2 linked regions of the Homo sapiens genome follow. The protein of the gene in region 1 interacts with the protein of each later gene in a pairwise test. Each region holds a gene or a part of one and is shown on either strand. Other genes may lie near its edges. The genes, in order: MPHOSPH9 and WNK1.

Evidence for each region.
Region 2: the proteins of MPHOSPH9 (region 1) and WNK1 interact in a two-hybrid assay, tested with the Homo sapiens proteins (one large-scale study listed by IntAct).

Annotation. Positions count from the first base shown.
Region 1 is NC_000012.12:123,230,200-123,234,703, forward strand, and holds the start of MPHOSPH9 (M-phase phosphoprotein 9), read right to left. Parts: upstream 2,943-4,504; 5' UTR 2,876-2,942; exon of another isoform or gene 2,715-2,875; intron 324-2,714; 5' UTR 166-323; coding exon 62-165; intron 1-61. UniProt on the Homo sapiens protein: Negatively regulates cilia formation by recruiting the CP110-CEP97 complex (a negative regulator of ciliogenesis) at the distal end of the mother centriole in ciliary cells.
Region 2 is NC_000012.12:898,821-902,631, reverse strand, and holds part of WNK1 (serine/threonine-protein kinase WNK1), read right to left. Parts: intron 2,157-3,811; coding exon 1,962-2,156; intron 1-1,961. UniProt on the Homo sapiens protein: Serine/threonine-protein kinase component of the WNK1-SPAK/OSR1 kinase cascade, which acts as a key regulator of blood pressure and regulatory volume increase by promoting ion influx.

The sequences.
Region 1 (4,504 bases):
ATAAACGTATGCAAATAAGGTTATTCTGATTTGGTACATTTTTTTTAAATCCCATTCTTACCTATCAGTATTTAAGTTCAGTCCAAGAGAATGAAGAGAATTTTCATCAGATCCTACAGAAGATGAAGTTTTGTGTAAGGTTTTCACCAAGTCAAACTCTTCCATAGTGTACAGAAATTGTTATATTCTCTTATTGGAAAATAAAGGTTCTTGGGCTGTTTGAGAAAAATGAATCCGTGTCATCTTCAGAGGCTTCATCATCTACTGGCATTTTCAGTGGCTAACATTCAGAACTGTGAAATATCCTAAACTTCCAAGAGAGTCTGAAAATGAATGGGGGAAAAAAATACTACTATAAAAAGCCACCAAAGCTAGCAACTGTTTTTACATAACTTTGGAAACCTTAACTGCTTTCATACAGATCTCCATTAAGGATAGCAACAGTATTCATAATAATCAAAATGTAGAAACCACCCAAATGTCCATCAATGGATAAATGGATAAACGAATGAAGCATATTCATAGAACAGGATAGGATTCAGCCATAAAAAGACACATGCTACAACATACATGAACACTGAAGATACTATGCTAAGTAAAAAAAGCCAGTCACAAAAGACCACAGACTATATGATTTCATTGATATGAAATATCTTGAATGGGCAAATTCATAGACAAATGGCTGCCAGGAGCTGGGGAAGGAGAGAATGTGAGTGAGTGCAGCTGGTATGGAGTTTCTTTTTGGGGTGATAAAAAATTCTGGAATTAGATAGTGGTGATGGCTGCACAACCTTGTGAACTAAAAACCACTGAATTGTACACTTGTAAAAGACTGAATTTTATGGTATGTGAATTATGTATCTCAATTAAAAATCTACATTAAGGATTATTTGCAAAAGTAGCATCACCTTTTTCAGGTAATATTTCAGATTTTTATATGTTTAATAATCAAGGTTCTTTTTTTTAGAGACAGCATCTTGCTATGTTGCCCAGGCTGGTCTACAACTCCTGGCCTCAAGTGCTCAGCCTCCCGAGCAGCTGGGATTATAGCGCAAACCATTTTGCCAGGCTTTACAATGAAAGTTCTAGATATAATTCTATTATGTAACAATTGGAATACTTGCATGCCTTGTTCATTTGTTTAATAAATTCTACCAAGTATATATGTTTGTTGACTTATACAGAGACAAGAAGAACTGAACTACTTAATATTTAATTTGTATTAAAAAGAGCCAATTAAACTGTTAACAACCATAGCTTCCCCATTGTCTGGAAGTACATTTTGAACTATATATATGGTCTTTTGTCTCTGTGCAGCTATTCTTAGAAAATAAACCACTGGGCACACTGGAGCCTGCCTGCAGCTACTGGGAGCATGTCCCAGCTACTCTGGAGGCTGAGGTGGGAGGATCACTTCAGCCCAGGAGTTCAAGACTGCAGTGAGCTATGATCCTGCCACTGCACTCCAGCTTGGGCAACAGACCAAGACCCCATCTCTTAAAAAATAAAAATAAAAATAAAAAAATTATTTGCCAGGCCAACTAAAATTTCAGTGAAGCTGGATATATACCATGGCAAATTGGCTGTAACAGGTCAAACAAGATGCCTCCTTCCTGGGGAATTCATGCACTTATAAAAGAGCAAGGGAGCAAGAGGAAAAAGGAGAAAGAAAGAAAACTTCAGCTGCTTACAAACTGAAAAGCTTAGAGAGTGCAACAGGAATATTATCTAGTATTCCGCTTCTGCTAGATTCCCACTTTCTAGGGCCTGCTTTTATAAAGCATTACACAAAAACAGGGACCATTTCCTTCAGGGACAGGAGTGAATGCAAAGGGTAACCGGACCTAACTAAATGGACTTTTCCCCAGTGGCTCAGCCCATCACCCACGACAAATGGGGCATTGAAACAGTCAAGGACTGCCCCTTCCAACTGGCAACAGAAATACCTGGATTCCAATCACCATGCTATTACACCAGGAAAACACAAGCTCTCCAGGGAGATGAACCTGCAACCCCATCTATTATTTCCCCTGCTAAGGTAATCCGGATCCGGATGCAGATCCAGATGGAAAACCACTAGAAATTCAAAGATGCTTCTCCATTTGGGGTGGAGGTGCTGGGGGGAGGGCAGGGAAGTAAGAGGGAAAAATCCTTAAACACCCACAAATACAATGCAAAAAAAAATTTTTTTAACTTGATACAGAATGAATATAAGAGCAGAGCTTTTATATTTCCCAGCAACAAGATATGACGCTTTTGGTGTCCCTACCCCCTAGCAAAAAAAGGGAGCTGGGGAAAAGGAACGATTGATGGTTATGAAACATGAAAGTTAACTGGGCGCTCCGCCTTGACGGGAGGCTTGGGGGAGAGGAAGAGATTTCAGATGGGGATGAGGCCAGATCCCGACATTCTGAGCTCACAGTCAGCCCGCAATGGCTGGTGGCGGCTATCGGGTCAAAGTGGGAAGGAGAGGGAGAATCTATGCAGTCGCCTAAGCTACGGAAAGCAGGGAGGACGGAGAAAAGCCACCGCTCCTGCAACTACAACCGCGATTCCAAAAGGAAACCGGGGCACCTTGGCAAAAAATGGGGGGAAAAATTAAAAAAACCCCACAAACCCCCCGCCCCTCAGGAAGAGCGATCTGCGATTGGGCCGCGCGAGTGTCACTCAAGGGCGCCGAGTCTAGAAAAGGCGCACCGCGGCCGGGCAGAGCTCCCACACGCCGAAGGGCTCCGAGGGGGTCAGGCCAATCGGCAGCCGTCACCCCACACCCCAGCCCATCACCACACTCAAGGGGCCGCTAAGACAGTGTCTCCTAAGTCTCGTCTCCTGTCCCCAGCGGCCTACAGCTCCCTGCAGGCTGGTGGCCGCTTACCTGGCCGCCGCTCCCGCTGCCGATGTCAGGGTCATGCAAGCGGCCTCTCGCGACCGTTACCCGAGGGAGCGCGCGCGCGCCCGGCGTCTCTCCAGTGATTGGCTGCCCGGAAGGAGGCGGAGACAGCCTCGCATGGCGCGCGCGTCCACCTCGCCGTTCCCCCTCGCGCAGCTCCAACCAAAGAGAGACATCCAACCCCGGGGGAGTGACAAGGGGGCGGGATTGCTGTGAAACTCTCTTCTCTGATTGGCTCTCTGGGAGCCAGCCGCTGCCACGAGGGAAAGAAGCTTCAGTTTCTCGCATGCGCAGTGAGTAAACATGAGCCTCTGGTAGATAAGAGAAACCGCGATCGGAGTACGGCGCGTGCGCAGATCAGGGATCGCGATTGCGAATCCTCCGCTGAGGTGATTTGGATATCCCTAGAACGTTGAGGGCACGAGTCGGGTCCTGAGACCAGGTAAGCATCTGCGGAGAAGCCAGGTAACCCTACGGCTGCCGACGACTGTCAAAGGCTCCGGAGAGAGGACTGCGAGCCGGGACGCCTGGGTTTTTCCCGACTTGCGACCCCGAGTGGCGCAGCCAGTTTACCTGAGGCCGCGCTGGCGGTGGGGTGGGGCCGGCCGTGACACCCGAGCTCAGTTTTCTCGGGACCTGGTTTACGCTAGGTGCTGTGGGTCGGCCCTGGGGCTGTTCAGGCACTCAGGGCAGGGGAGAGGAGAGACTACCGTCCTGGAGATAACGGTTCCACGGAGGCCCAAGGCGAAACGGAAGGATCCTCATGTACAAAACTGAGCGGAATGGAGCTGTGAGCACGCATCAGGTGCTGTTTCAGGCCTGGCACGTAGTAGAGGTCAGCACTGCCCTTGCTAGGCTTTTGCGGAGATACTCGTTTTTTTTTTAATAGACGTGGGGTGGGGGGGTCTCACTGTGTTGCCCAAGCTGATCTCGAACTCCTGGCCTCAAGCGATCCTCCTTCCTCGGCCTCCCAAAGTGCTGGGATCACAGGCGCAAGCCACCCAGCCCTACTTTTGAAGGACCAAAGGGAACTCGCTCTCCTCCCCGTGGGACCCCAGCCCATTTCATGCGCACTGTGCAGGCCACATTCTTCAGCATAGTTAACCTTTAAGGTCTTTCCAGCTACTCGATTTACCTCCAGGAGTTCTGGCTCACAGTAAAGGGACTTCCCTGGCACTATCACTTAGGCCTCCACAACCCAGGAAATGGATCTGCCCTTGGAATAACAGATCTGCCAGGAGGCGTTACATCTCATTGGAGCTTCCTAAGTATACCTACCAATTTTTTTTTACTTTTTTTATTTTTGTGGGGGAGGGGGGTAGGGGGGACAAGGTCTCTCTCTGTCACCCAGGCTGGAGGGCAGTGGCGCGATCTCGGCTCACTTTAACCTCTGCCTCCCGGGTTCAAGTGATTCTTCTGCTTCAGCCTCCCGAGTAGCCGGGAATACCGGTGCCCGCCACCACATCCGGCTAATTTTTTGTATTTTTAGTAGAGACGGGGTTTTGCCATATTGGCCAGGCTGGTCTCGAATTCCTGACCTCAGGTCATCCTCCTGCCTCGGCCACCCAAAGTGCTGGGATTACAGGCATGAGCCACCACGCCTGGCAATTTTCA
Region 2 (3,811 bases), about 120 Mb from region 1:
CAAAATCCCAGAAATCATGTTAGAAGGAGAATTTTCACTTGCAGATGCTGGGCTTTGATCTTTATTAGACTAAGTGCTTTATCAGAATAACCAAACTAAAAACCGCTTTTGATTTTATGGGGTTAGAGGACAGTAGTGGTGGAATGATCCAATGAAGAGATCCTAGCATCTTTTCAACTGGTAGCTGCTTAGGCTTAATAGAGAAGAAAAATAAGATTTCAATCTACTCTGACAAAGAATGGAAAAAAATGGTACATAATTTTTACCTGCTGCCAGGATCTAAGAGCATCATTGGTCAAAATGCTTTCTTCATTTCGTTTCTTTTTTTTGAGATAGAGTCTCACTCTGTCGCTCAGGCTGGGGTGCAGTGGTGCAATCATGGCTCACTGCAGTCTCAACCTCCTGGTCTTAAGGTGGTAATCCTCCCGCCTCAGCCTCCTGGGCAGCTGGGACTATAGGTGCACACCACCATGCCAGGCTAACTTTTTTTTTTTTTTTAGAGATGGGGTATCACCATGTTGCCCAGGGTTGGTCTCGAGCTCCTGGCCTCAAGCAATCTTCCCGCCTCGGCCTCCCAAAGTGCTGGGATTACAGGTGTACGCCACCGTGTCTGGCTGATTTCTCTCATTTCTAATGCTAGGGCAGACAGACAGCACTGACTACGACTGTGGAGTTCAGTCTTCATTATTCTAAATGACCCAGCAATCTATTGCCTAGATACCATATCCACTCTCTGTCACAGATCCATGAAGAAGCACTTCTACCAGAAAGTTACATTGAAATTTGTAGATAACTTGTTATTTTGACATTTTTTATCATAATTAATGTGGGGGCCCAAACTTCTGAGGGTAACAGTAATTCAGCCAAGCCACTGAGTAGATGATATACAAAAAGAGACAAATGAAAATGGACTGCGTGAAACATCAGATCCAAGCAGCAGAAACACAAGGACAAGGAAGGAGTAAAGGTGTTACACACAAAGAGCCAAGCAGGGCGTACTCAGAAATCGGGTCCTCCTGCCACCAGGTTTGAATGTCACCTGTTCAGATGCACAGTTAAACTTCGCACAGCCTGTGAGAGGGGAAAAACAGGGTAGAACAGAGAGAGGAGAAGAGACAGAACACAACTACAAGATGTTAGAAACTTGAGGCTGGAGTGGTGAAATGCACTAAGATGGCACACAGAAGAACAAGCTTCTGGGGGGAAGGTCAGATATGTAAGAGATGAAATATTAGGTCTTAATTCTACCCATCTGCAAAATGCGGAAGCTTTTCTTAGTTCGAATAATGCTAGCTAGTTTGCCCTCCTTACCAATCAAGTGCATTCTTCCTGTGAAGAGACTGATCTCTAATTTCTGTGAAACTGTGGCAAAGGCACATAAGCCAGTACCTATATTTTTTTCATTCTTCTCACCCAGATGCCCAAGTCTTTTCAATTCTTGTTCTAATATGACTAAAAGCTCTTTCCTCTGTGGGAATTTTTTCAGCAATCACTAATAAACAGAGCTATATTTGGAAAGTAGATTATGGATAAAAAACTGAATTGTAAGGTTATTCATTTTAGTATGCCACTCCCATACTTAAAAGTAACAAAATTCTACAATGGCTAAGAAAATGTATTAGCTTCAGAAACTGCTAAAACACCTTAGAATTTCATCCAGGAAATCTCAGCCTAATATTAAAGCCTAAGTTCCAAATCCCAAATGAGCAAGTCATATAGGCCACACAGATGTAACTTTTCACTGTAATTCCTTGAAAAAAAGTAATTTCACCTAATGGGAGCAGTGAGCCCACCGATTCTCATTATCACTCCACTTCCCTTTTCACCCAGATTCTTCAGTGTACAACACACAGGCTGTGTTCTGGTCAGCTAGTCTCCCAACCCGCCTTAACAGGCTTTTGTCCCAGGTATGGCAACATCTCCATTTTATTGTTTTTGGACGATGATGGTTGCTTTATTACCTTGACCTGGAGCAGAAAGGCTTGGTACTGAAATGGCACCATCACTGGTGAAGGCTGAATAGAGGTTGTCACTGGAGGGAGATGGCTTAAGGGGCTGTAACAGCTGATTCTGCCCGGACTCTGGGATGTTGCCAGGAGGGTGGAGGGTCTGCTGGGGGTGCAAGACTGAAGCTGCACTCTGACCAGACAGGTTACCTGCCAAAAGATAAAGTGGCATGAGGAAACATGTCCAGCTCTTCCCATGCACTCATCAGGCACTGTTCTTATACATTTGGTTTGTTCCACTGAGTGATGAATGATGGGTCAAAAGCTACAAACTGATGAGAAGAACAAAGTCCTCACTAACGGGAGAAGTGAGGAATGACACTAAGACTCAATAGATAGGCTGGGTGTTGTGGCTCACGCCTATAATATCCCAGCACTTTGGGAGGCCAAGGTGGGCGGATCACCTGAGGTCAGGAGTTCGAGACCAGCCTGGCCAACATGATGAAACCCTGTCTCTACTAAAAATATAAAAATTAGCCAGGCGTGGTGGAGGGTGCCTATAATCCCAGCTACTCAGGAGGCTGAGGAAGGAGAATTGCTTGAACCCAGAGGCAGAGGCTGCAGTGAGCCGACATCATGCCACTGCACTCAAAAAAAAAAAAAAAAAAAGAAAAGAATCCATAGGTAATAGGGCCATATGTACTATTCCAGAGCTTTTTAGCTTTAGAAAACCTAGATGGGCCACATGTCTGAGCAGCGTAAGAAGACCAGAGTACCTAGTGGATACCCAGATTCCATTCTGCAATTCCATGATTGCTTTTTTTTTTACCCTATTAGAAAATGTGTTGAATCATTATACAAAAAGGTTTGCTAGGCAGTCTCTGCTTAGACTTTCCTATAAACGTGCATCAGAGCAAATACAAAAGAGGTGTTCAAAAATGATGGAGGTCACTACAGAGCAATGGGTGTTTAAAATTATTTTTGGTAGGTTGCTTTCAATAGGTCGGTTGTCCTAAAATTGACTCTCTGCTCCCCGGTTCCCAGTTGAATTCAAGTCCACTCAAAAAGTATGTCAAAATTAGGATTAGAATTTGATTAGGATCATAGCTGGGCATAGTGGCTCATGCCTGTAATCCGCACTTTGGGAGGCTGAGGCGGGCGGATCACCTGAGGCCAGAAGTTTCAGACCAGTCTGGCCAACATAGTGCAACTAAAAATACAAAAATACAAAAATTAGCCAGGTGTTCTTATACATTTGGTTTGGGATTACATGCTTGTAATCCCAGCTACTTGGGAGGCTGGGGCATGAGAATTGCTTGAACCTGGGAGTTGGAGGTTGAGCCACTGCCGACTCTGCCTCAAAAAAACAAAAACAAAAACAAAAAAGATCTGATTGGGATCAGATCAGAAATTAGCTGATTTCTCTTACAATCACATCTCTACTAATGGGCTGCATGAACTGGCCCTAATGTGCTACATTTGGATATCTGTGAACCTTTCCAGAGAATGGAACTGCTAAGAAGTTTGCAACTGCTTTTTAACATATTTTAACCTTCTTTTACTTTTCAACTAATTGTGTTAACACTACCATAATTTCACCAAAGGATTAGAAACTCTCTATCTATCCCAATTAAAATATAGTCCAGGGCCGGGCACGGTGGCTCACGCCTGTAATCCCAGCACTTTGGGAGGCCAAGGTGGGTGGATCACCTGAGCCAGGAGTTTGAGACCAGCCTGGCCAACATAGTGAAACCCCATCTCTACTAAAAATACAAAAATTAGCCAGGCATGGTGACATGTGCCTGTAATCCCAGCTACTATGCGGGGCTGAGGCAGGAGGATCACTTGAAACTGGGAGGCGGAGA